Linked DNA regions of Homo sapiens: regions 1, 2 and 3 are each linked to region 4. Evidence: fine-mapped expression QTL. A gene starts in region 4. Each other region holds a variant in brackets. All regions are shown on one strand. Distances are between the middles of the regions.

Region 1 (7,431 bases), 32 kb after region 4:
AGTGAGCTGAGATTATGGCATTATCCTCCAGCCTGGGCGACGAGTGAAACTCCATCTCAGGAAAAAAAAAAAAAAAAAGATAAAACATGCAGAGTAGAAACCCCAGGTGGACAGATACCTGTCCCACCCAGAGAAAAGCTGGGTGGTGCCATCGACGGGCAAAAGTAGTGGAAAAGCCAGCTGCGTGTGCTGGTGCGAGATGCGTTTCCATGATGGAGGATGCCGCGCACTCAGCCTCTCCTGTTATCCTGTGGCCTGCGAGCCCTCTCTTAAGTGCACCAAGAGCAGCAAGGGACTTAGAGCAACTTCATTCACTGCTGCCCAGGCGGAAAAGGGCGCCCAGGCCCTGCAGCTGGAACTGGGTAACAGGCCGGGTGGAGACTCACACTGGATCCCACTCAGCCATGATCACAAGAACAGAGCGACTGCTGCTCGGGTCTCACGGGCGACTGACAGCAACCGGGAGCCCTGACGCCTTCCCGACACCCCCTGTTCCATCCACGAACAGGCACGCCCGCCGTTGTTTGAGTTTTTACATGTTGACACCCCCTGCTCCATCCACGAACAGGCACCCACCGTTGTTTGAGTTTTTACATGTTGACACCCCCTGTTCCATCCATGAATGGGCAGACCCGCCATCGTTTGAGTTTTTACATGTTTGTGAGTAATGTTCCATCTCAACAGCCTGGGCAACATAATGAGACCCTGTCTCTCCCAAAACAAGCAAACAAAAACCCCCAAAATTAGCTGGGCATGGTGGTGCGCGCCTGTAGTCTCAAGCTACCCGTGGGGCTGAGGTTGGAGGATGAGCCCGGGAGGTTGAGGCTGCAGTGAGCTGTGATTGTACCACGGCCCTCCAGCATGGGTGACCCTGGCTTAGGAAAATTTGTAATAATAACATCCCATCTCTCAGTTTACATGTAGAAATCTTACACATCTTTCCTAAATATCATGTAAGTCAGTCCCAGGTGTGTTATGTCCTCTGAGTCTATTCTAAATGGTTTATTTTGGATTTTTTTTTCCTTTTCTGTCAGATGCTTTAGGTACTGATTTTCTCCTCTCCGCCTGGCTGGAACATCCGTCTGCATCGGACGGGCTTCCTTCTGCACCTGTGACCTCACAAGGGCTCTCCTTGGGGAGGCAGGACCAGAGCAGCCCTGAGTAACCGGGCACAGCCGAGGAACAGGCCCCAGGGAGGCCAGGACCCGGGTCCTCACGCCTGCGGCCACAGAAGCACCGTGTCCCTGCAGCTGTGAGCCACCAGGCGTCTGGGTGGGTGGTTACTCAGCAAGTGCCAGTAGAGAAACTGGGTCCCAGAGTTGGGGTTGCTGTGGACTGGATACTTGTCCCTCACCTCCAGTTCACATGTTAAAGTCCTCACCCCCAGCAAGACAGTGTTGGAGGTGGGGCCTTTGGGAGGGGAGCAGGTTTAGAGAAGATCCTGGGGGACCCTCACGATGAGATGAGTGCCCTCATGGGAAGAGACACCGGAGCCTCCTCTCCAGGAGCACACACGGGACGGTCACATGAGCAAGAGGCTGCTGTCCGTAAGCTGGGGGTGGTCCCTCAACAGGAACTGGGTCTGTGGCACCTGGAGGCTGGACTCCCAGCCTGCAGAGCTGGGAGAAAGAAATGTCTGCTGTGAAGCCAGTCGGTCTGTGGAATTTTGACACAGCAACCTCGTCTAAGACAGGTGCCGGCAGAGCCACCTCGTCTAAGACAGGTGTTGGCAGAGCCACCTCGTCTAAGACAGCTGTTGGCAGAAGCAACACCTAAGACGCAGTGCACTGACTGCGAGTGCAGTCTGGGGCTGGAGAACAGAAACACGGGGAGGAGACTATTAGCAGAAGAAACCATGATTAGGTAGTAGTGAAAAATTTGGGTGAAAAAAATTGCCTTTGGGCGGGTGCTGTGGCCTGTGCCTCTAATCCCAGCACTTTGGGAGGCCAAGGTGGGTGGATCACCTGAGGTCAAGAGTTCAAGACCAGCCTGGCCAACATGGCAAAACCCTGTCTCTACTAAAACTACAAAAATTAGCCGGGCGTGGTGGCGGGCACCTGTAATCCCAGCTGCTCAGGAGGCTGAGACAGGAGAATCAATTGAACCCGGGAGGCAGAGGCTGCAGTAAGCCGAGATCGCACCACTGCACTCCAGCCTGAGAAACAGAACCAGGCTCTGTCTCAAAAAAAAAAAAAAAAAAAAAATTGCCTTCAGTAACTTGGAAATTAGAAAATGGACCCAGCTAAGCAGAGCTCCAGACAGAGTGGCAAAAATGTCAGCGGAACGCTCCTCGTGGCACTGGTGAGGCCTGCGAGCATGAAATGTGTGAAAGGAGGGATCGTCTAGTCTGCAGGCGGAATCTGGAGGACACAGAGCCGGGGCCTGAACTGGCTTGGGAAACAAAACCATCTCACATCTTGTCTCTGCAGTCAGCAAAGCATTTTCTTTCAAAAGTTGTTTTAAATTTACTTTTATTTTTTAGAGACAAGATCTCCCTATATTGCTCAAGGGATCCTCCTGCCTCAGCATCCTGATCAGTTGGGACTGTAGGGTGTATCACCACTGCCTGCAAAGAATTCAAGTAGTAAGTGGCCTCAGGATAAAGATAAAATCAAGGTTGTGGCCATATCCATTGTTAAGGCCCCAGAAAAGTTTACCATGTTGGGGCTGGGTGTGGTGGCTCACACCTGTAATCCCCGCCCTTTGGGAGGCCGAGGTGGGAGGCCAGGAGTTCAAGGCTGCTGTGAACTGATTGCACCACTGCACTCTAGCCTGAGTAACAGAGCAAGAGCCTGTCTCTAAAAAAAAAAAAAAAAAAAAAAAAAAAAAAAAAAAAATATATATATATATATATATATATATATATATATATATATATATATGCTGGAAGATAGTATATAGTACAAATCCTCTCAGCTAGACAAAAGTGTTTCTAAGACCCTAAAGGATGTTTTCCCACAACATGCTAACACATCATATGAAACAGAGAAAACACTGACAAATGTTTAAGTATATTTTTTGTCTAGTGGAGAATATAATCTAAGAAACCCACAAGATTTTGTTTGTTTGTTTTTTTGAGATGGAGTCTCGCTCTTCTGCCAGGCTAGAGGGCAGTGGCGCGATCTCGGCTCACTGCAACCTCTGCCTCCTGGGTTCAAGTGATTCTCCTGCCTCAGCCTCCTGAGTAGCGGGGACTACAGGTGCGTACCACCACACCCAGCTAAATTTTGTCATTTTTATCAGGGACGGGGTTTCACCATGTTGGCCAGGATGGTCTCAATCTCTTGACCTCGTGAGCCACCCACCTTGGCCTCACAGAGTGCTGGGATACAGGCGTGAGCCACCGCGCCCGGCCCGAAACCCACCAGATTTTTAAGGGCATTGTGTCAGTTTAAATGAACAGAGATGGAAACAGCTGAAAATGAAGCCTTTGGGTTCCCTCCTTCTACAGGCAGTAAGCAGCTAAGAAAGCTGCTTAGCCTCAAATACAGGCTATCGGACATCTAAAAACACAGAGGAGAGAGACCAAGGGCAGAGCCAAAATCTGAGGGAAAAAAAAAGGATAATAATGTCACTTCCAGGGAAAATGAGGCCCTAAAAAAGACACAGACTCTGCCCCCTTAATGAGGTCCCTTGGCAACATGCTGTTGACTGAGTCAACAGAGTACTACAGACTGGGGTCTGCAGTGAATGAGCCCCCACCGCTCTCTTTTTCAAACGAGAGAGTTATTGTGCTTATCCTGGGCCTGTCTCAAAATCCTGTGCTGGGGTCGAGGCAGGTAATTTTTTCTTTAGTTTATAGCCTCAAGAGGCATCTCACACACATCCGGACCAGAGGAGAATCATGAGCTGACGGCCTCTGAGCTGAGACAGCAGCAGGAAGAGACCTCTGGGTGGCTTGAGTGGGGGGTGGCGAGCATATTTCACTTGTGGAAGGAAAGTAAGTCACTGTGGCTCCAGAGTGGACTGTGGGAAATATCGGACGGTCCCAGGACACGCGGCTCTCTCTGCCCAGCCCTGGGGCTCCGTTGTCACGTGGGGATGCCCCTCACCACTTTTTTTCTATGAAACCCCATTTACAAGATTCCACTTCTTCCTTTTTTTTTTTTTTTTAAGACGGAGTCTTGCTTTGTCACCAGGCTGGAGTGCAGTGGTGTGATCTTGGCTCACCGCAACCTCCGCCTCCCGGGTTCCAGCGATTCTCCTGCCTCAGCCTCCTGAGTAGTGGGGACTACAGACACGCGCCATCACACCCAGCTAATTTTTGTATTTTTTAGTAGAGGCGGGGTTTCACCATATTGGACAGGCTGGTCTCGAACTCCTGACCTCATGATCCACCTGCCTCAGCCTCCCAAAGTGCTGGGATTACAGCACAGTGGCCAGCCCCTTCTTCCTCTTTCTTGGTTTGCTCCCTTGATTTGGAGCTCCTCCTTTAGTAGGCTCCTGAAAACATGTATTTTGAAAATGAATTTTTAAAAGTAAGAGTTTGCATATCTGAAAATGTTGTCATACTGTCACACTTGACTGACCACTTGGGTAGGTATAAAGTTCTAGGTTGGAAATTATTTTCACTTGTAATTTTCGAAGCATTGTTCTGTCATTTTCTAACTTCCAGTCTGCCCTTGGGAAGGGATTTATTCCTCAGCCTGTGTGTGTGATCTGCGCTTTCAGATCGTCTCTATGTCCTGGACTGTCTGATGTTTCACGTCATGCCTGGATGTAGGTCGTTCCTTCCATCTTTGTGCGAGATATCGGTAGGTGCTTTTACTCTGGAGATTCATGTTTCTCGGTTCTGGGGGAAAATTATTTCTCTAATAACTTCATTCCCACCATTTTCTGTTTTTGTTTTCCCCTCCTTGGAATTCCTGTTAGTCTTAATCTTTCTATCCTGTCACCCACCTTCTTGTCTTTTCATTCTTTCAAACAGATTTTCTCCACTTTCCACCTTCTTGCTAATTTAATTTTGCCCATTACATTTCCATCTCTAAGACATTTTTATTATTTTTTTATTTTTTTCGAGGTGGAGTCTCACTGAGCCTGAGTGACACCCAGGCTGGGAGTCAGCGGTGTGATCTTGGCTCAGTGCAGCCTCCGCCTCTCAGGTTGAGTAACGCCCAGGCTGGAGTTGGCGGTGCGATCTTGGCTCACTGCAACCTCTGCCTCCCAGGTTGAGTGAAGTCCAGGCTGGAGTACGGTGGCGCAATCTCGGCTCACTGCAGCATCTGCCTGCCAGGTTCAAGCGATTCTCGTGCCTCAACCTCCCAAGTAGCTGGGATTACAGGCGCAGACCACCACACTTGGCTAATTTTTGTATTATTAATAGAGATGGAGTTTTGTCATGTTGGCCAGGCTGGTCTCGAACTCCTGACTTCAAGTGATCCGCCCGTCTCTGCCTCCCGAAGTGTTGGGATTACAGGGGTGAGCGACCATGCCTGGCCCATCATTATTTTTGAGTTTCCTTTTTAAAACAATGTTCTGG[A/G]CTTCATATGGCACCTGAGCTTGCCTTTCTTCCCCTGGTTGACTCACGCCTCCCTCCTGTCTGTCTTCATGTGTGTGACTCTGGGTCACAGATTTTCCTCCTAATCTTTATGTGTGTTTGTGTGTATGACAGTCTCACTCTGTCACACAGGCTGGAGAGCAGTGGCGCAATCTTGGCTCACTGCAACCTCCGCCTCCCAGGTTCAAACCATTCTCCTGTCTCAGCCTCCCGAGTAGCTGAGATTACAGGCATGCACCACCACAACTGGCTGATTTTTGTATTTTTAGTAGAGACGGGGTTTCACCATGTTGGCCAGGCTGGTCTCAAACCCCTGACCTCAGGTGATCCACCCACCACGGCCTCCCAAAGTGCTGGGATTACAGGCATGAGCCACTGCACCCAGTCCTAACCTTTACCTGTCAACCGGCAATTCTATACAGCTTACTGTCGTTAGGGACATATTTAGTTTTGTTTCCACCATCTTAATTTGCCCAGTTTGTTTCTGATTTTTTTTTCTTTTTTGAGAGAGGGTCTCACTCTTTTGCCCAGGCTGGAGTGTAGTGGTATGACTACAGCTCACTGCAGTCTCGAGCTCCCAGGCTCAGGTGATCCTCCCACCTCAGCCTCCTGGGTGGCTGGAACTATAGGCTTACTTACTGTATTTTTTGTAGAGACAGGTTCTCCCTATGTTGCCCAGGCTGGTTTCGAACTCCTGGGCTTAAGCGATCCACCCACCTTGGCCTCCAAAGTGCTGGGATTACAGGTGTGAGCCACAGCGCTCAGGCCCAGCCTGATTTCGTTCTTATTTTTTAATTGACAGAAGTTTGTGTTCAGTTCATTTATTTATTTTATGGGCTCTCACTGTGTTGTCCAGTCTGGAGTGCAGCGGCACAATCGTAGCTCACTGCTGCCTCAAACTCCTGGTCTGAGGATCCAAGCCGAGATCCTCCTGCCTCAGTCTCCCAAGCAGCTGGGACTACATTTTAAATCACAGTGTTTTATTCTTTTTATTGGATTAGAGATGTATAGACTGGTTACACTCTTTTAGTAATTAACATTAAATTACACTATGCACATTTAACTTATCAAAGTCAAATTAAACACTATCTTACACCCTCTTCCCAACAACCGGAGGGTCTTAGAACATTTCTGTCCCTTCTAATTTACATGCTATTGTTGTCTAGTATTTTAGTTGACACTATTCTTTTATATATACATATGTATTCATATTTATAATTTTATTTGCTTGCCATTCCATCTTATATCTAAGACCATCACTCGGCTCATTTTCCTTTATTTATTTATTTTTTTAAGATGGAGTTTTGCTCTTTTTGCCCAGGCTGGAGTGCAATGGCGTGATCTCGGCTCACTGCATCTTCTGCCTCCCAGGTTCAAGGGATTCTCCTGCCTCAGCTGCCCGAGTAGCTGGGATTACAGGTGTGGGCCACCATGCCCAGCTAATTTTGTATTTTTAGTAGAAATGGGGTTTTGCCATGTTGGCCAGGGTGGTCTCAAACTCCTGACCTCAGGTGATCCACTGCCTCAGCCTCCCAAAGTGCTGGAATTACAGGCGTGAGCCACCGTGCCCAGCCCTATGTTGCCTAGGCTGGTCTTGAACTCCTAGGCTCAAGTGATCCTCCCCCTTAGGCCTCCCAAAGTGTTGGGATTATAGGCATGAACCACTGCACCTGGCCTGTTTTTCATTTCCAAAAGTTCTTTAAGGAGTCCTGCCTATTCATGCGTGACAGTATGTACCCTACAGCTTTCTCATCACTGACTGCGCGACTTCTTTGAACACCTCACACATAACTATCCTCTCACCTGTATGATGACAGTTTCAGGATCTGCGTTTCTTTGTGGCTGACAGCGGCTGCCTGCTGTTTCTGTTGGCCCTCAGTCAGCTGACTCTCCTTGTGTGCTTGGGGATCTTTGCAAGCTGAATGCCTGACTTA
Region 2 (6,590 bases), 90 kb before region 4:
CAGTACCCCAGAAATCTCAGTTCACAGGGCCCAGGGCGGCTGCAGGACACGTCGTTGATGGTTCCCTCCCTTCACTGCCGGAAGAGAGGCAGGCGAGGGTCCGTGGTTTGCAAATTTGGAGAGAGGGCTTCTGGCCTGCAAGGGCTTCCAAACTCGCCTTTCTTGGGAGGGGGCTGTGCTGCTTTTCCATCGGGGGTAAGCGGAGGTTCTTTCTGGGGACGGGACGGAATCCTCTGTGAGTGAGTCTCCTGAGTTTGTTTTATCGTTTCAAGCGGAGAGACCTGGAGGAAGAGAGGAAGGCGAGTCCTCCGTCAGTCCCTGCCGCCTCCCCCTTTGCTTTTGGGTCTCTGCGGGAGTTCAAGCAGAATCCCAGCAGGGGAGCTGGCCGTGAAGGCATCTCTGTGGAGGAGAATGCTGGTGGGAATTACAGAAATGTGGGGCGGAAGATGGAGTTGAAAAGACTACGCCGGCAGGGACAGGCGGGTTCCAGGCAGCCACGGGTGGCTCAGCCGCCCGGCCCGGGCCTTCGCTTACACAGGCCATCTCTCCCCAAGGAGGGGCGGGGAGCCTTGGGCACATTCTTGGACGGGAATCTGCTGGCTCGTTTTTCATAGTCCGAAGTTGTAAAGAGCAGAGGACATGGGACACCTTAGTTTTCACCATCGCCGCCCCCAGGAGCCCTTTGCACAGAGCCTTTCCCTGGCCGAGAAAGTACAGGACCCAGCGACTTCTGGCAGCCTGGATCAGAGGCGGCCTTTTTGGGGTGGGAGCGGCGGGCAGGGAGCTGTGTCACCCTCCCTGCTCCCTACCCCCACCCCAGGCGTCTGGGAGCCCTGCACTCAGGGGCCAGAACTGGGCTTCCTGGTGCACGGGGCCTGCGGGCGCTGCTGGAGGCTTGCTGGGTTTGGGACTCAGAGGAACCCCACTGCGGCACGTGCCGGGGCTGCCACCGGATCCAGCTTTCTCCGCAGCATGGCCGGGCCCGAGCTGTGGGACCTTAGCAGCTGCTGCTGCTGGAGTCAGTTCACTTTCCTGTTTTCTGTTTTCTCTCCCCTTTCTCTTTCTCTCTTTCGTCTGTCCCCCTGCTTTCCGCCACACACAAGGTGGAGCAGGCAGGTGAGCACCGGGACGCGGGGACCCCTGCGGGCAGGGGACTTCTTATTCCTGTGTTCCGAGACAGAGCTTTATTGAAAACCATTTTGGGGGCTCCGTGAGCCCCCGCGGGAAGATGGCCATGTGTGGAAAGCACCTTTGGCTTCAGTTGCACCCGTGCCCACCCACACAGCACAGGCCTGGACCAGCGGCACACACCTGACCCAGACTCTGTACAGCTGGCAGGGCTGGCTGGAGGCCTCAGTTTGCCCCGAGGGAGTCCCTGGGACCAGTGTGACCCTTCAGGAGGGGCTGCTGCAGCCAGACCTGGCTGGAGCCGGCAGCGGGGGAGGGTGGGCAGCTCTGGGGTTCCTGGCTGAGGGAGGTTGTGTGGCCAGCAAGGAATCGGAGAATTAGATCCCTCAGCTCCTCCTCACTGGGCCTGGAGCCCTGGAGGGCAGCAGAGCTGGAGTGCCAACGGCAGTCGTGAGCATGTGTGTCCCTTGTGTGCAAGGCAGCACCAAGGTGCTTGGGGCTGAGGGGAGCTGGAGGGCCCCTGGAAGGGGCGACCACAGCATCCGCCGCTCAGCTCCTGGGACCCTAGCCCCTGACCCATCCTGGAAGAGCAGCTGACCTCACCCCCACCCCCACCTGGATGTCCCCAGAGGTCAGTGATGGTGCCTGGCCTGGGTGCCCCCTGCCCCCGCCACCGTCACCCAGAACCAGAGCAGGCAGGCAGGGACTCCTGGCACTTCGAAGGTGCCATCCTCTGCCTTCCTGGAGGAGGCTGCCTGGGCCCAGAGGGCAGAGCTTGTCTCCCACACACGCTGGCAACCACCCTACCCACCCTACTGCCCACTGGGGGCCCACAGCAGGGACCCAGGTGACAGCCCTGGCCCAAGAGCTCCGGAGGGAGACACCAACTGGAGTGTCCTGCATGTGACACTCGGCCCCCGCGTGAGCCCTGGGAGAGGGGAGGCTGGGGCCTGAGGCTGCCTTGAACAGGGTGCAGCGTGAGGACCTAGTGTTCCTGGGGCAGCTCAGATATGTGGCCCCAGGAGTTGTGTCCCATCTCCCACCAATGGGAGCTGTGTCTTCCCAGACAGCAGGGAGAGGCTGAAGGGGCCGGGGTTAAGGCCCTGGGCCTGGGTGGACACCCATGGCACACACTGGACACACGAGCAGGAGCACTGGCTGCACTCCCCCCACACTCGCCTGTGCCCGACAGCCCACCTGGACCCCACGCACACACACGTCTGTGCCCGCAGCCCACCTGGACCCCACGCACACACACGTCTGTGCCCGACAGCCCACCTGGACCCCCCCACGCGCACACTCGCCCGTGCCCGACAGCCCATCTGTACCCCCCACACACACGCTCGCCTGGGCCCGACAGCCCACCTGGATGGTCACTGGTCTCCTGCCTTAAGCCCCCGTCAGCCACGCACAGGGCTTGGGCTGGGGGTGCTCACAGGAGAAGGCCAGGGCCTTCCCTCCTTCCTCTGCCATTCCCAGGCGCTGGGCCAAGTGTGGCCCTGTTTCCTCCCCCCACTGCCCCCCAGTACGTCACAGTGGTGGCTGTCGGCAGGGCCCCCCCAGCCTCCTATAGAGCCGGCTCTGAGATGAGGGCCAGGACAAAGCGGAAGTGTCCTCTGCCCCAGCCCCAGCACAAGGGTGGGTACGCTGTGGCACGTGCACACATGCACGGGCACACACACATACACACAGCCCAGAATGTGGGAGCAGACTCTACCCACCCGG[G/A]GACACAACAGCAGACACACTTGTGGCCCTGCGTACACACACGCGTGCACCTGGCTGGCACACATGAGGGTGGAGTTACACCCAGACACATGCATGTGGACCCACCGGCCCTATACGCAAACCAACCCCATGGTTTTGTCTGGGCCGGTCCTCCATGCTGAGTCCCGCCTGGCCACAGTGGGCTCTGACATGGGCCTCTCCAGTGAAGTGCGGTCCTCAGCCACTGTCTGCTCGGTTCAGCCCAGCCCACCCTGTCCGGGAGGAGGGGTCCTGGCCCTGCCCTGCCCTGGCTGCCTTGGCCTCTCCTTGCCACCTCTCTCCCAGCCCTGGTCCTTGGAGCCACCGTGAGGGGCCCAGATGCCCTCCAGGATGGAAGCCTCATCCTCCACTGCCAGGTGCTGAAGGCTCCCTAGGGTCACGCCCTCTTCCAGGGATGGATGTGGGGTGCAAGACCCAGCCACCCTCTGGTTGGAACCATCACTAACCAGCCCAGCCAATCGTGGGGGGCTGAAGGCTCCAATTGCTCAGCAGGGACTTGGCTCAGCCCTGGAGGGCCCTGAAGGGGCCTGTCCGACAGATAGGCCTGTGCAGGTCACAGCGTCACCAAGGGTCCTGGCCCAGGGCCAGTGCTGTGACCTGCCACTGGGTATGGTTGGGAGCCTGGGGACCCAACACCCCTACCTTGGGCCTGGAGGAAGGGCAAAGCCATCCCTGGCCCAGGGCCTGGGGACGTGGAACAGGGCGGGTGTCAGGAAGAGCCTGGCCTTCTCCCCAGGGGGCCTTGGTCTCCCCACCTGCCAGCCACTCTGGAAAGCAGATACTCCGGGGCTCTGAGTCAGACACAGAGGTGATGGGCTGACATTTGCAGGACAGGAAAGGGCCACCAGCCCTGTGGGGTCCATGCTTTCCCTTGCCCAGCCCCGACTCCTCCCCGCTGCCCTCATGGCTGAAGCAGCCATACCTCTGCCGTCCCTGGGCCTGGGTGCCTGCTCAGCAGTTCCTGGCCACGGAGTCCAGCCGAGGGCTGGGGAGGCCCAGCAAGGGTGCGGGGCAGGGCCTGAGTGCCCCCGCTGTCCCAGATTCAAGCCCAGCCTGGCCCCACCCTCACAGGGGCCCACCTCCCTAAGGCTGAGGGTCCTGGCAGGTTGTCGGGGGCAGCAAAGGCTGAGACCAGGGCGAGGGCCCAGATGGTCCCGGAGAGCGTGGATGGGACGGACCTGGGGGAGACCTTTCCTGATAGGAGCTGGGAGGCGCGTGGAAAGTCGGGGCGTGAGGTGGATGCAGGTTCTGTGTTCGACCTTGATGGTGTAATCCCTGAGGGTGCACGGGGAGGGGCAGCACGGGGTGGACTTTGGGGGTGCAGCATGTGGGTCAGCAGGGAGAGCCCGAGGCTGTGGGCTGAGCCGGGGAGGGTGGAGGCCTGCGGGGTCTTGGCTGAGCCTGGCTCCTAGGGGGTCTCGAGGTGGGGGCAGGCAGCTCAGACAGGAGTACCCTCCAGGGTCCCTGAGAGGAGGCATTTGGATCCCCGGGCTCCCAGGGAGAGGGTGGCGGCCGAGGGACCCTGAATTAGGGAGTCTGGGGTGGCAGGGGAGACTGGCGGGGCAGGGCCAGCCAGGGCCCGGGAAGTGGGACCGGTGCTCAGAGGACTCGGAAGTTGTGGGGGAGGAGGCAGGGCCTGGGAGAGGGTCTGAGGCGGGAGGCTGGCCCAGGAGGAGGGGAAACCGCTTCCTCACCTGGGAGGCGGAGGAGGTGGGGGATGGGGGAAGGGAGTGTACCCCGAATCAGGAGGTGGCAGGAAGGTGGGAGTGGCTTGGAGCCCACACCCTCGACCCCCACACACAGTCGGCAGTCCGCATGGGGAGCAGTGACAGAGGAATTTGCGGCTGGCGGGCTCAGCGCCTGCCTAATTTGCAGTGACACCGCTCAGCTGCCCAGGGCTCCAGCTGTCACAGCCAATTAGCCCGCGGCCGGGGAGGAGCGCCGGGCAGGGGGGCGGGGGGGCATGAAGGGGTCGGCGGGGGAGGCTGTGGGGGTTGCAGGAGGGGTAGGCGCAGGAGGAGGCCTGTGGCCTTCAGGTCCGGCCCGCCCCCCCAGGCACCCCAACCTGGCTGTGGAGAGCAGCAAGGTGGGGTGCCCCCCAACAGCAGCCCACCAGGCCTGAAGCCCCTCAGCCGCAGCCCTTGCTGCCCCTTTCAACCCTGGCATTCCCCTGAGCCTTGCCACCTCTTCCATGCCGGCCTCTGGGACTCCAGTGCCCTTGACCCCTGGCACCCGAGTTAGGTGTCCTGAGGGCAGCTGGGATCAGTTCCAGCCTGGAGGATAATTCCTCTCCACATTCAGGCCACCGCCTTCCCAGACAGAGCCACCTTGGCCCCTGACTTGCGTCTGTGGCCCAGCCCCTCCCTCCCATGTGGCGGGCTCCGCCCTGGGGCCTCCCCGACTCCACTGCACCTCCCGGCACCCACTCAGCGTGGTCTAGCTCGCAGGGGATGGCCCCTTTGCCTCCCTCCCACCCAGTCCTCAGAGGCTGACACAGGGAGGTATCTGGAACATGCCAGGCGCCAGCCCCATGGGCCTTGATCGCCTCCCCGGAGCAGCCTGGGAGCAGCAGTGAGCGTGCAGGCAGGGTGCTGGGCACAGAAGAGTCCCAGGCTGCTGGCGGGGCCCCGCGGGACTCTAGGGGACTCTGGCTTCTCTAGGAAGGAGGGTCCCGGAGTCCCTTCTCCTGCAGCACCCTTGCTCCCGTCTCCTGGCTGGGACCCAGGTGTCTGGTCACCTCCCCCAGAGGGGTGGGTCTCAGGGACAAGCCATGTCCTCCGGGAAGCCACATGCCCTGGGTGGCCCCTCTCCAGCCGCCGCCTCTGCCCAGCTCTTGGTACAGATGCCCCAGGGGAGCTGATGCCCTGGGGGAGGGGCGTAGCCCACGGCTCCTCTGCGACAAGGGAGTTTCAAACACAGGGGCCCTGGCTGGGCCCACCCCACCCATCCCCAGCTTCTCCCTGCAGCCTCTGGTCTCCTCTCTTCAACCCCAAGGCTGCCCCTCCGCACAGAAGCCGCCCATGGCTGTCCCGGCCCTCCAGCCCACCCTCCTGAGGGATCTGCCCGCCTCCCACCCCCGGCCTCAGCACTCCTGGTGTGCTCCTCCTCACGGGAAGCCCTCTGCCGACCCCACAGCCCCCTTCGTCCCGGAGCACGGAGCACGGAGCACGGCTCGCCTGTCTCAGAAGCGTTAGGCCCCGCAGGCGCCTGGCCCGGCCTCGGCTCCAGCTCCACCCTCTCTACTGGGGCCCTGCCGTTGCCCCTGCTCCCCCGGCCGGGCGGGGGTCTCCTGCCCATTTGCTGCAGTGCTGGGGAGGGGCTGTGCTTTGCCGAGCGGGGCACTGGCGGTGCAGCAGAGGCGTCAAGAGGCGGCACCTGTAGACACGCAGTCGCGGTGTGTGAGACGCGCGGGCTGGGGCGCGGCAGGACGCAGGGCAGCGGTGCTGGGACCATTACCCCAGCGTGGTGGCGCGGGCGCCGCAATCCCGGGCGGCACGAGGCTCAGGTATGGGAAGAGAGACGGGAAGATGAATTGCAGACTAAGCCAGAGGGTGGCCAGGAAATCGGGAGAGGAAAAGGGCGGGGAGGGAGGGGGAAGAGCCCGCCGGGCCTCCAGGAGGCCTCGCCTGCCCGTAGGTGGCTGGGCCTGTGTGTATAAAGTCGGGGCTGGAGCGGCTGCAGGGGAGCAGCCGTGAAAT
Region 3 (7,628 bases), 72 kb after region 4:
GCCTGTAATCCCAGCACTTTGGGACACTGAAGTGGGTGGATCACCAGAGGTGGGGAGTTTGAGACCAGCCTGACCAACAGGGAGAAACCCCATCTCTACTAAAAATATAAAAAAGCTACCCGGACACGGTGGCGGGCACCTGTAATCCCAGCTACTTGGGAGGCTGAGGCAGGAGAATCACTTGAACCGGGAGGCGGAGGTTGCATTGCGCCGAGATCGCGCCACTTCACTCCAGCCTGGGCAACAGAATGAGACTCTGTCTCAAAAAAAAAAAAAAAAAAAAGGAACTAGTACTATATCTGATACTGTTTGGAAGTGAGCCCCCTGCACATCTCATGGAAATGTGGCCCCTGATGGTGGCGGTGGGACCTGGTGGGAGGCTATTTGGGTCATGAGTAGCTTGGTGCCCTCTCCTTGGTGATGAGTGAGAGCTGGCTGTTAAAAAGAGCCTGGCGCCTCCGCCCCTCTCTTGCTCTGGCTCTTACCAAGTGACGGATGCCCTGGCTCCCACTTTGCCTTCTGCTGTGAGTAAAAGCTTCCTGAGCCCTCCCCAGAAGCCTCTTCTTGTACAGTATGACCAGGGACAGCAGCACCCTCTGAACGCTGATCTGAACTGTGAGCCAAGCAAACCCCTTTTGTTCTTTATTTACTTTTGAGATGGAGTTGCCGCTCTTGTTGCCCAGGCTGGAGTGCAATTGGTGCGATCTCGGCTCACTGCAATCTCCGCCTCCCAGGTTTAAGTGATTCTCCTGCCTCAGCCTCCCAAGTAGCTGGGATCACAGGCATGCGCCACCATGCCCGGATAATTTTGTATTTTTAGTAGAGACGGGGTTTTGCCATGTTGGCCAGGCTGGTCTTGAACTCCTGACCTCAGGTGATCCACCCGCCTCAGCTTCCCAAAGTGCTGGGATTACAGGCGTGAGCCACTGCGCCCAGCTCCTCTTTTTTCTTTTCTTTTTTTTTTTTTTGAGACGGAGTCTCGCTCTGTGGCCCAGGCTGGAGTGCAGTGGCGCGATCTTGGCTCACTGCAAGCTCCGCCTCCCGGATTCATGCTATTCTCCTGCCTCACCGTCCTGAGTAGCTGGGACTACAGGCGCTCACCAACTTACCCAGTCTCAGGTATTCCTTTATAGCAGTGCAAAATGGACAAACACAGAACTACATCAGGAGAGCGGCGGACGACAATGCAATTGACTCGATGACAGGCTGCAGCTGCATTGCACCAGGCTGTGCAGACTCATTTTTGGGGGCAGCTGTGTCTTTGTATGTAGTTCTTGACGTCCTGTCACACGCACAGGCTGTTCTGTCACACACACAGGCTGTTGTCACCAGCTCCCTGTGCATCCAGCGCATCACGGGAAGCTGAGTCACCCAAGCTACCGTCCATGTCGGCTGACCCATGAGAAGCTGTGGAGCGTCTCACTCCCCAGGCCCTTTGGACAAATCCTCAGCCTGGCCAGCTCACAGGAGTGAAGGGAGATGGGAACGGGTGTAATCAGAGTGGAAGAATCCCCTTCCCCCACCAGGGAGGTGTGAAGGTGACGGGCAGGGCTTTGGAGGGAGTGCAAAGGTTGCTGATTTAATGAGCTCGGAGCCAGCAGCCAGTCTGGTCTGTTGGAGCAGCAGGTCCCCGCTCCTCACCTCGAGCAGGGTTTTGTTGGGTATTCACTGTAAATAATGAGCTAGTGTTTGTTATGCTGGGAGGAGGGGTTCCAGCCCAAACAGCCCCAGAGCCCCTGGTCCTAAGACGTGGGAGTCGGCCCACAGCCAGCCCCCCCAGCCTGTTGTCTTGATTTGTCCTCTTGGACTGTGGATTAGAAAAGGCCTCCATGGGCTTCTTTTGTTGAGATCGGGGAATCCAGTGCCTGTTCAGATACCCACACAGGCATGGCCTGCTCCAGCCAGTGCTGCTGGGGTTGGGGTGAGGGTGCCATCTGGACGGGCAGTGCCCTTGTCTCTAGGGGTCCCTGTGGGAACCTTCAAAGCTTCCCTGGCAGGAGGGCTGGTCAGAGACCCCGAGCCACTGGAGTAGAGAGGCTGAGAGCACTTCCTAGACCACACCTGGAGATGAGGGGCTTAGAGGAGTGGCCAGGCTTAAGGTCCAAGAAGGCTTCTCTAAGGGGCAGCATCAGAGAGAGATAGGGGTTGGAGCAGGAAGGAGGGAGGGGAGGCAGCAGAAGGGAAGGGCCAGCCCATCACAGAGAGGCAGGAGGGGCGCAGGGGCAGAGGTCTGATGCCTGAAGGAGTTGCCTGGGGTTCGAGTTTGGAAGACCAGGCAGGGGAGTGTGGTGAGCAAGGGGAGGACAGAACGGGATGGGGACAGACCGAACAGCCTTGACACCTCCACTGGGGGCTCAGACGTCATTCTCAGGGCACTGCGGGGCACAGGGGTCTGCAGGGAGGGAGGGAGGAGAGCTGACATGCACTGAAGATCTGCCTGGGGCTGTGGGGTAGAGAAGAGCAGGACAGAAGGGAGAGGGGGTCAGTGGCTGCAGTCCCCTGCACGTGACACAGCTGGCAGAAGTCCGCCTAAGTCCCAGGCCGGGATGCGGATGATGAGGAAGCTTTAGGCCTGGGCTGGTGGGGCAAAGACGGGGCCACTCTGGGTGTTGTCCTCAAGAGTGGAGAAAGGCAGTCAAGCACACTTGCCTCTCGCCAGCGCCAGCCACCGTGTCGCCTTGCTGGCTTGGTTGCAGGGGAGGGAGAGCTGGGAGGGTTCTGGTTAAGTGTGTGAAGGCATGACCAGTCTCCATCCCCACATCTCCAGCCACCGCAGAGGCTTGTTCCCGCACCGCTCCATGCCTTTCCAGCTTCTGGAACCCCAGGCGTCTCTGGGCGGTTCCCTGGGGCCTTGAGAGCCACCTTTCCCGTCCTTTTCTTTGTCGTCACAGGGTCTAAATCTGTATCTCTCACCTGCAGCACCTCTGGCATCTGGGCAGGACCCCCGCCTCTGCACACCAGATTCCGGTGGTGCCCCCGCCCAGCTGTGACCGCCAACACGGTCCCGGACATTGCCGAGTGGGCCCCAGGGGCAGAAGTACCCCTGGTTGAGAGCAACTGCCCTGACGAAGGAGGTGCGAGCCGGGGAACAGAGGACCAGACAAAAGTGAGTGCTGTTTGGAACTCAGAGGGCCTGGAGAAGGGCTGAAGACAGGGCCTGAAGAAGGCGTTCAGGAACCCCGGGGCCTCCTCTGGGGCATCCTGAGTGCAGGCACTAGGCCACCTAATGAACCCTTAGCTTCCCAGGTATCCGGGGCCAGAAAGGCTGAGAGCATTTCCGCACTGCAAAGGGTTGCTCCCATTGTGAGTTAGTGAACAACTTTCTCATTTATGTGTCAGTCTCCTGTGAGTCTGGCTAATGGGGAGTGGTCTTGTGGAGACCCATCACAGGCAGCGACCAGCCAGGGTCCTGTGGTCCTGGGAAGCAGCACCTGCACTGTTCCCTGGGAGGAAGCCGGTAGCCTTCGTGGGGTCGCTGACTGCATCCCCAGAGTGCAGAGAGCTCAATGAAGACAGCACTCGAGTCAGAAATCAATGTTTACTGCAGAGAACACAGAAGCCAGCAAGCAGTAGGCAAGGGAGGCGTCGCAGTGAGTGTGTCGGGCAGGCTGGGAACCAGCGCAACGGCCCACGTGGACCGAGGACTCACGCAGAGCAAGTCACAGAAAGCGCAGCTGAAAACAAACGGATGCTTATCCCAGATGCACAGGACACTTACCAAGGACTGATGGTCTATCAGAGTAATGCTCAGCAGCTTTGGCTGGCAGGACAGTTAAACTTTTGGACAACAGAAAGTAACTGGGAAATGGGACATCTGCCACCAACACGAGAGGCCAAGACCACAGCTGTTACAGGAGGGGTCAGCGCCACAGTACATGGGTGGCGGCGGCGGCTGCACATGCATGCCTGGGGAATGTGAGTGTTCAGACATGCCAGGCATCCAGCCTCACCAGGAAACAGGCACACGGGGACACAGGCACAAACACTAAAAACCCTCGCTGAATCCA[T/C]TTGGCTGAGCGGTGGCCACGGGAGCACGGGGCTGCCCTCCTCACAGACCTGCACCTGGGCCCCAGGGCAAGACGGGCGTGGGAGGTGCAGGGGTGCGGGTGTGGGCAGGGGCTGCCGGAGAGGGGCGTGGGAGGTGCAGAGGTGCGGGCGCGGGCAGGGGCTGCCGGAGACAGCCGTGAGGGGTGCGGGTGCAGGCAGGGGCTGCCGGAGACGGGCGTGGCAGGTGCAGGGGTGCGGGTGCGGGCAGGGGCTGCCGGAGACGGGCGTGGCAGGTGCTGCCGGAGACGGGCGTGGCAGGTGCTGCCGGAGACGGGCGTGGCAGGTGCTGCCGGAGACGGGCGTGGCAGGTGCAGGGGTGCGGGTGCGGGCAGGGGCTGCCGGAGACAGGCGTGGCAGGTGCAGGGGTGCGGGTGGGGGCAGGGGCTGCTGGAGACGGGCGTGGAAGGTGCACGGGTGCGGGTAGGGGCTGCCGGCTCAGAGGCGTGTCCAGGAACCCCCGTCAGGCCAGAGCCCTGCCCTGAGCGGCCTGCAGGGGTGACTGCGAGACAGCAGCGTTAGGCCCGGTCTCGGCTGTGAAGTCGCCCCCACCGCCACGCACGACCCTGGGGATTCTGTCAAGGTGGGGGCCGTCTGCTAGGCCCGGGCTCCCTGACCACGTGGCTAGGTTTGCGGAGGAAGCCAGGAGAGTGCCAACACCAGGCTCTGTAAGCGTGAGGCTCCCTGCCGGCCCCATCCCGGAGTTCACCCCATCCTTCCTGCGTCCCTGGACCTCAGCTGTTCCTCATTGACCTCAGAGACACCCTGCCCTGCCCCGGCTTCTCAGGAGCCCTGCCCACCACCGCCTCAGCTCTGGGGACACGGCCTTTCTCCCGGTGCAGAGGCGCAGCTCGCTGCCCCCAGGGCCCATCTTCCTCCCCAGCATGTTTTTACCTCAGCTCATTCTCAGGAAAGAAACGATCACATCTCAGCGCCCCAAATGGGGACCAATAGGAGAGGTCACTGGGAATGAAACCCAGGTACACCCCAGGGTCCGTGGGCTCCCCAGAAACGCAGGTGGACCCCACCACAGCCAACAGGCCTAAGTCGCTGATCGGCCCCTCCCTGCTTCCCTGTGTCGAAGAGGAAACAGAGGCCCAGACAAGGAGGGCTGGTCGGCTGCGTCCCCAGACCTCTGGTTCCGGGGCTGGCTGGGAGCACCCCTCTCCCTGCTCCCTTCCTGCTCTCCTGAGAAATGGCTCAGGGATGGGACCTGCAGGGATGGATGCTGGCATAGCTCTCAAAATGCTCGCACAAGGGACACTCCATGGCAGGTCCCTGCAGCAGAGCAAAGTCACAACATTTGAGGTTCTCTGCACTCTGAGGCCTACAGAGCTCGGCTGGCCGAGTGAGGCTGGGAGGATGGTGCCCGCTGGTCAGGGCAGCTGAGTGGGGCTGGGAGGATGGTGCCCGCTGGTCAGGGCAGCCCTCTGGGTCAGGGTGACTGAGCAAGGCTGGAAGGATGGTGCCTGCTGGTCAGGGTGGCCGCGTGAGGCTGGGAGGGTGGTGCCCGCTGGTCCGGGTGGCCAAGAGAGGCTGGAAGGATGGTGTCTGCTGGTCAGGGCGGCCCAGGAGGTGCTGTCCAGGCGGAGCCCGGGGCTGGTGTGGGTGCGCCATGCTCCTGAGAAGTTTCTGGGTTGTGGCTTTAATGTTCTCCTGCAATAAGAACGCTGACACTTGGCTGAAAGGTCCTCACGTCTCCCCCAGTACACTTCTGAGATGCCAGGAAGGCATTCTGAACATCAGGCTGATTCCTGGGACTCCCCTCCAGGGTGACCTCACCGGAGTCAGGAGCCCCCGCCCCGCGCCCACTGCCCCACTAGGATGGCTCTGCAGTGGCCTGAGGACAGTGAACACTGGGGTGTAAAGTTGCCCACTGTGATGGTTTTGACCTTTGAAGAAATTTGGGAACCAAGTGAAAGCCCGGCAGCTATTTCTAGGCATTTCAGAGGGTGCTTCCCTGCACGATTTCAGAGGGTGCTTCCCTGCACGATTTCAGAAGGTGCTTCCCTGCACGACTTCACAGGGTGCTTCCCTGCACGATTTCAGAGGGTGCTTCCCTGCACGATTTCAGAGGGTGCTTCCCTGCACGACTTCACAGGGTGCTTCCCTGCACGATTTCACAGGGTGCTTCCCTGCACGATTTCACAGGGTGCTTCCCTGCACGATTTCAGAGGCTGCTTCCCTGCACGCACTCTGCCGCACACCGCACTCCCTGGGCCAGGAGCCTGCTGCACAGAAGGAGGTTCCTTTTCTTCTCTTTCCAGCGCTTTTCTTCTCCTTTTCTTCATCTCTGCTCCTCCTCTAACTGAGGAATGTGCGAATCTTTTTTGTTAGTTTTGAGGCTGCTTCTTATGCATATTTCATCTGGAACTTCTTGCTTTGGGGGTGATCTGCTCTACCAGCCTGAAAAGGATGAGAAATATCTTCTGAATACATGAGAAGTGCGGTGATTACCCGGTTCCTCTGTTGGTAAAGACCACACTCTGAAAGCAAGAAGATGGCTTAAATTTGGGTTGAGTGGAAACAGGCACCTGTGGGCAACGGAGGCCAGGGTTGGGGGCGGGGGGGCCTCAAGATCAGTGGGGGGCGTGGAAGTGGGCGTTAACCCGTGCACCCCAGGGCTGGATGGCACCAGGTTCATGAGGAAGTGCTCCCTGTTTTCTAAAAACGTTAAGGAAGGTGGGAGGGTGTCAGATGTGTAAGCTGAGTGTACATGACATGATCCTTTAACCGCGCTAGAGCAAATGCTCACTCACCCTCCATCCGGTTTAAGCGCGAGATACCACCCAGGGGCCCGTGCCCTGTGCCGGCCCGTCTCTCCTGAGTGTGAACCATGCCTTTGCCTTTCTCTGCAGTTGGACCACATGTGTCCCCAACCACCACACTGTGTAGTTTTGCTTGGTTTCGAACTTTGCGGTGGTTAAAATCACGCCGTGTGTCTTCTGTGCCTTACATTCTCTGCTCAGTGTGTGTCTGTCACGTAGGGGTTGACGTGGGTCCTGGCTAGCTGCGTGGCCACTGTGCCAACAGCTTCCCTTGACCAACAGACCATGATTTACCCGCTTCGCTACCGACAGGCATTTGGGTTCTTTCCGGCTTTCCTGACAGTGCATGCCATGAACGTTGTTGTGTCTCTGGCTGCGTGCACACACGTTTCTCAAGGGGAAGTCAACAGGCGGCTCCTGGGTCAGCAGGAACGCACATCTTCGCCTTTGCCAGAAAACGCCAGGCTGCTCTCCAGACTGTGCTGCTGCCTGGTGCCGCAGCAGGAGATGAGGACCCCCGCCCGTCCCATGCAAGGATCCGAATCCGACCTGGCCATCTTTACCACGCTGTGGGGCACAGAATTGGATCTGTTGTTTTAACTTGTGTTCTCTGATTTTTAAAGAGATTGAGCATGTTTTCAGGTATTTACGAGCCATGGATGTTTTTTTCTTCTGCGACTTTTGCCCATTTTTCTTTTTTCTAGAGATGGGGTCTCGCTGCGTTGTTCAGGCTGGTCTTGAACTCCTGTTTTGGCCATTTTTCTATTTAGATATTTGTCTTTAAAAATCCTGGTTCCTATGAATGCTGCACATATT
Region 4 (5,192 bases):
TGGATTACAGGCATGAGCTACGGTGCTCGGCCAATTTTTGTGGATTCTTTGGGATTTTCTATATACAAGATTATGCCACCTGCAAATAGACATAATTTACTTCTTTCTTTCTGATCTGGGTGTCTTATTTCATCTGCTTGCCTGTTTGCTCAGTTAGAGCCTCTGGTACCATGTTGAGAGGCAGTGGTGAGAGTGGACATCCTCGTCTTATTCTTCATTTCAGCAGGAGCGTCCAGTCTTTCTTCTGGCATATGAGGTTAGCTGCGGGGTTTTGTAGATGCTGCTTTTCAGGTTAAGTTTCTTTCTATTCTGTTCTTGAGTGGGTTTTCCATTCTGTTTATCATGAAATGGTGCTGGATTTGTCTGCTGCTTTTTCTGCATCTATTGAGAAATCTTAGGGTTTTTGTCCTGCCACACTCCCTCTTACAAAACCTGAGGAACCAACTGGGCATCGGCTCACACCTGAAATCCCAGCACTTTGGGAGGCCAAGGTACTTGAGCCCAGGAGTTCGAGACCAGCCGGGGCAACATAGGGAGACCCCATCTCTACAAAAAGTAAAAAACAAAAAATCAAAAACCCTTAGAAACCTGAACTGGAAAACACATTGACCTCAGGATTCCGTTGAAGGAATGGTGGGCCTGGGCCAAGGCCCTCTTCTGGTTTGTAGAAAGGGTTACCTGAAAAAATATGCATCACTGTTCCGCAGCCCCTGGGAGGAGGTGGCCCACCTGGAGAGTCAGCTGCTGTGTCCTGGTGTGTGTGTACCTTCAGCTGCTGAGCTGCTCATTCTGAAATGATGGGACACCTACCAGGTCTGCCTGGGCCCTAAGAGCGAGCAATTGCAGCCCTCGGCCTCTGCCCATGGCTTCCAGCAGCTAGATGACATGGACACTGAGTCAGTTGGTGGCAGGGGAGGGTCGCTGAGGGCGTGCGGTGGCAGCCCGGACTCCTTTCCTGCCTGTGTCCACTGCATTCCCCCCAACGGTCACAGTGAAAGTGCGGAATGCATGTGAATTCATCTGCTTCCCACGGTCCTGGTGTCAGGGTTTTACCGGGGAAGACCAAGGCTGCGGTGCTGCCAGAGGTGAGCGGTGTGGCCTGTTGTGGCTCAGGGCCTACCGCCAAGTGCTGATCTAGAGGTTTTGCCCCTTGGCCATGCTCCCCAGTGAAGACACTGGGGTTAAACCCTGGTCAGGGTCAGCAGTCACGCTGGGGACTGAGCGCAGGAAGGAGGCTCCAGCTGTGCCTGGTCTCTGGTCTCCTTGGGAGTGAGAGGCTGGTTGGCAGGGATGATTTCGCAGGACTTCCTGTGACCTTTGTCCAGAGGCACCACCTCTGAGGGGCTGCTGTGGGCTGGACAGCAGGTGCTTCTGCCGGTTTCTGCGTCCTGGAAGTGCTGCTGTTTGTAGGGGATGAGGTAGGGGGCCATCTGAGCCTGTGTGGTCCCTTCTCCAGAGCAGCAGAGCGTGTACTTAGGAAGGACCTGCTAGGTGCCCCTGCCCTCAGAGGCTCTGGGAGAGAGCTGTGTGCAAGCCCTGGGCAGGAGTTCACTGGCCTGGTCGTGTGACCTGTGGGGCATCCTGACAGCCAGCCCTGTGCTGCAGAGGTCAGTGGGACTGGGTTTGGATCTGGGTCCCCGCCCAGCGTGAAGGGGCGCTGGACCACGAAGGCAGGGAAACCAGGGGGAGGCCGGCAGGACAGTCAGTGGTCCTGCTGCCGCAGCCCCGTGCAGGCTTAGACCGCCCAGCCTTGGGATGAGCGCCGCTGGGGGCGGAGGCCGCGCTCGGGGGCGGGGCTGGCCGCTGGGGGCGGGGCGGGGCTGGCCGCTGGGGCGGGGCCCAGCTTGTCGCTCTTTCCCGGAGGCTGGCAGATGCGCGTGGTGCGGCTGCTGCGGCTCCGGGCGGCTCTGACGCTGCTCGGGGAGGTCCCCCGCCGCCCGGCCTCCCGGGGTGTCCCGGGCTCGCGCAGGACGCAGAAGGGCAGTGGAGCCAGGTAAGGTGTCCCAGTGAGCAGGCGGCGAGGGCCCTGAGCACCGGGCTTGGGTAGGTCCAGAAAGGGGAGTGGCAGGCCTCGTGGGACGGCCTTGCCCTGCTTCCGGTTTTCCCAAAAGTCGGGCCAGGAGAGCATGCGTGCCGCGGTGTGACCGGCCCGCCTCCTGCCCGGGGTGTACAGGCCCCCCCATGACGTCGCCCTTGCTTCCCCAGGCACCACCCCACCAACCCTATTTGGGGAAATCTCCCCTCTTTTTTTCCGCTTGTGGTTTCATCATTTGTGTAGCTGTGCCTGGGCCTCAACACTGTAGGGTTTGGTTAGGTACTTTATAAAAAGCTTATGTTGCTGTGCATGGTCTTCTGAGACCCGCTCTTTCCTGGAGTCGGTTCCCGGGTTGTCTCCAGGACCGATTCTGCATGGCGGCGGGCGCTCACTGTCATATCTACATCACCAGGCACAAGCCGCATGGATCCAGTGGCCCTGGTGGCCGTTGGTGGTCCCAGGCGCTTTCCTGGAGGACATGTGAGAAGCCCTGCCGGCGCATACTGGGCCTGGGGTAGCCGCATGGGGATGGGTCTCTGCGCATGAAATGCTGGAGTTTCCGAAGAGCTGGAGAGTTGACAGCCTCACTGGTGCGTGGGAGATCCTGCAGGAGTTCCCGCCAGGTCTCGCGGTTTATCATCATTCACTTAGTGCTTCCAGCGTGGCATGTCTCTGTGACCTGGTGGTGCGCTATCAGCATACCCATTCACAGCTGAGGGCCTGCACAGCTGCCTAAGGCCATGCTGCAGAAATGTCCTGTCTGCCTGCAGGAGCTTGGGACCCAAAGAGAGCCCCAGATGGGGCAGGGTGTCTTGGGAGGAGGGAGTTCTGGCCTGCGCTTGGAGCTGGGGCTGGCTGTGGGCCCTGCATTGAGGCACATCTCTCCGAGGGTGCACAGGCAGGTAGGTGCTTTCCAAAAAGTGCTGCTGAGCTGCAGTCGCCCAGGTGGACAGGTGGGTTTGGAGCAAGGTCTCTGGCTTTGAAAGCCAGCTTGTGTCTGATGGTGGTGCTTGGTGCCCTGGTCTCTGCAGGGGTGAAAGAATGTCACTACAATGTGCAGCCCTCAGTTGGGCTTGAGCGCACACCCAGTGGTGCAGCCCTGCCTGGCCGCTGGCCGGCAGGTTGTTTCACCTCAGTGTCTTCATCTGTGAAATGAGACTGGTGATGTGACTACCCTAGAGGCTTTGTGAAGGACTTGGCAGTCAGGGTCACTGTCAGTTCTTTATTTTTATTTTTATTATTATTATTTGAGACAAAATCTTGCCCTGTCACCCAGGCTGGAGTGCAGTGGTGCAATTTCAACTCACTGCAACCTCTGCCTCCTGGGTTCAAGTGATTCTCCTGCTTCAGCCTCCTTGAGTAGCTGGGATTACAGGCACCCGCCACCACGCCTAGCTAATTTTTGTATTTTTAGTAGAGACGGGGGTTTTGCCATGTTGGCCAGGCGGGTCTCGAACTCCTGGCCTCAAGTGATCCGCCCGCCTCGGCCTCCCAAAGTGCTGGTATTACAGGCGTGAGTCACCGCGCCTGGCTCCTATCAGTTAGTTCCGAGATACACGTGGTTTCCCATTTTCTCACACCCGACATGATCCATCTTCCCTTATTCTCTAAGAAGGCGTTGTCTAGGTTTGCATCCTTCAGGGCACTTAGTGGTGCAGCCTCCTACCAGCCCCACCCTAGACATGCTGTATCAGGGCTGGTGGGCTCTCTTGAACTCCTAAAACCTGTAAGAAAGGTGAGGCTGGTCTCACCTGACGTGGAAAAGCTCTGCAGAGTCAGCAGAACCCCCCTCTCCCCGAGTCTCCCTCCAGACTCCAGCTGCCTGCAGCATCTGCCAGCTAGTTTTTTTGTACTTTCGCCATGTTGGCCAGGCTGGCCTTGAGCTCCTGAGCCTGCCTCAGCCTCCCAAAGTGCTGGGATCACAGGCGTGAGCCACCACGCCCGGCTCCACCCTGGAAGGTTCTTGAGCCCGTTAACTTCTCCCTACTTTATCAGCTCCGTCTCTACGTCTTCTAACCTTGCCCATTCCCTCCTCTGCAGAAACAGCCAGAAAGGCCCTTTCAGAAATGTCTGTTGCACATGCTTTCCCCTCTCAGACCCTTCAGAGACTTCCTGTTGCTCTGAGGACACTCATCCCAGCCGACCAGGCCCACCAGGCCCCCAACAGCACTACCTGGCTGGGGTCACGTGCAGGTCTCCTGGCTCTGGCAGGTGGGGGTGTGATCTGGAACCTTCTGTCCTTGTGCGTCTGGGGGAGGCTCAGAAGGTGTGCCCATCTCACTCTCCCCCATCCTGATGGTGCTCCCACCCTCTCGCCAAAGCCTCTCCCACTGAGGCCTTTGCACTGGCCATCCTGGGTGCTGGACTTGCTCTTCCCGCAGCCCTGCTGACCGAGCCTGCCCACTGCCTGCCAGCCACGCCCCATCTCGCTCCTCTTCTCCCAGGCCCATCTCAGAATCTAGGTTCAGTTGAGCCCTTCGTATGGGTTTTGGTGATCTGCATCCGCAGGACCCAGCGCAGTGCTGGTTCAGGGCAGGCTTGGGCTTGCCTCAATGGATAGATGATGACTGGCCTGGAGAGTTAGGATGGGCTGTAGCCGCCACGCTGGCTGTGTCCCCCCACCCCCTCCAACACCCCCCCAATCTCCAGAGCTGGGCTTGCCAGAAGGGGGCGCCCTGGGGAGGGGGACCTTGGCAGGGAGCCCTGTGGAGCCTCACTGTGTTAGTGCCTTACAAAAGGAGCCCTTCCCTGAAAACCCCTGAGGCTTCTGGCTTCAGGGCCTCCCCTCCCTGCCCCGCCTCCTCCACCCCGCCCTGCCTCTTCCACCCTTCCACCCTGCCCGATCCTCTGTGGGCGGCGGTCCTGCGCCCTGCTGTGGTGCCTCTCCACTGGCTGCACTGCTGGACCCCCTTCCACCCAGCTCCTCGGAGGCAGGGCTCTCTCATAAGCAGCCAGGTCCTTTATTTAGCAAATGAAATGGTCCCATGGAGAGGTTCCCGAAGATTCTAGACCGGCTCTGAAGGGACCCATCTGGGGAGAGGCCCTAGAGCCTGGGAGAGGCACGTTGCCTTTCCCACTTAGCTGGGCTTGCCCTTTCCCGCTTAGCTGGGCTTGGTGGGATCCGTGACTCAGCAGCACACGGGCCTCTGCAGGTGGG

What was found. PIP is the estimated chance that this variant, and not a neighbour inherited with it, causes the effect.
Region 1: its variant is the best candidate, but not a certain one, in a credible set for the expression of TOP1MT in whole blood (TOPMed, PIP 0.88).
Region 2: its variant is the best candidate, but not a certain one, in a credible set for the expression of TOP1MT in whole blood (INTERVAL, PIP 0.82).
Region 3: its variant is the best candidate, but not a certain one, in a credible set for the expression of TOP1MT in subcutaneous fat (GTEx, PIP 0.51).

The regions. Positions count from the first base shown.
Region 1 is chr8:143,298,519-143,305,949 of GRCh38, reverse strand. It overlaps ZNF696 (zinc finger protein 696), which reads right to left. Exons shown (of 3, transcript NM_030895.3): 3 at 5,998-7,431. LOC124902037 (a long non-coding RNA gene) reads left to right here and starts at 2,871. Exons shown (of 3, transcript XR_007061139.1): 1 at 2,871-3,200; 2 at 3,796-3,940; 3 at 4,117-4,565. The variant A/G (reference allele first, on the strand shown) is at 5,480.
Region 2 is chr8:143,421,050-143,427,639 of GRCh38, reverse strand. No RefSeq gene overlaps it. Among named protein-coding and RNA genes, the nearest start is that of MAFA, 6.4 kb to the left of the region's middle. RefSeq lists enhancers at 1,063-1,152, 4,560-5,147. The variant G/A (reference allele first, on the strand shown) is at 2,854.
Region 3 is chr8:143,258,597-143,266,224 of GRCh38, reverse strand. ZFP41 (ZFP41 zinc finger protein) reads right to left here. Exons shown (of 3, transcript NM_173832.6): 3 at 3,520-6,450. Among named protein-coding and RNA genes, the nearest start is that of GLI4, 5.0 kb to the left of the region's middle. The variant T/C (reference allele first, on the strand shown) is at 4,008.
Region 4 is chr8:143,331,541-143,336,732 of GRCh38, reverse strand. It overlaps TOP1MT (DNA topoisomerase I mitochondrial), which reads left to right and starts at 1,853. Exons shown (of 14, transcript NM_052963.3): 1 at 1,853-1,993. The coding sequence starts at 1,872. RefSeq lists a silencer at 1,696-2,155 and enhancers at 2,356-2,405, 1,945-2,629, 4,305-4,838.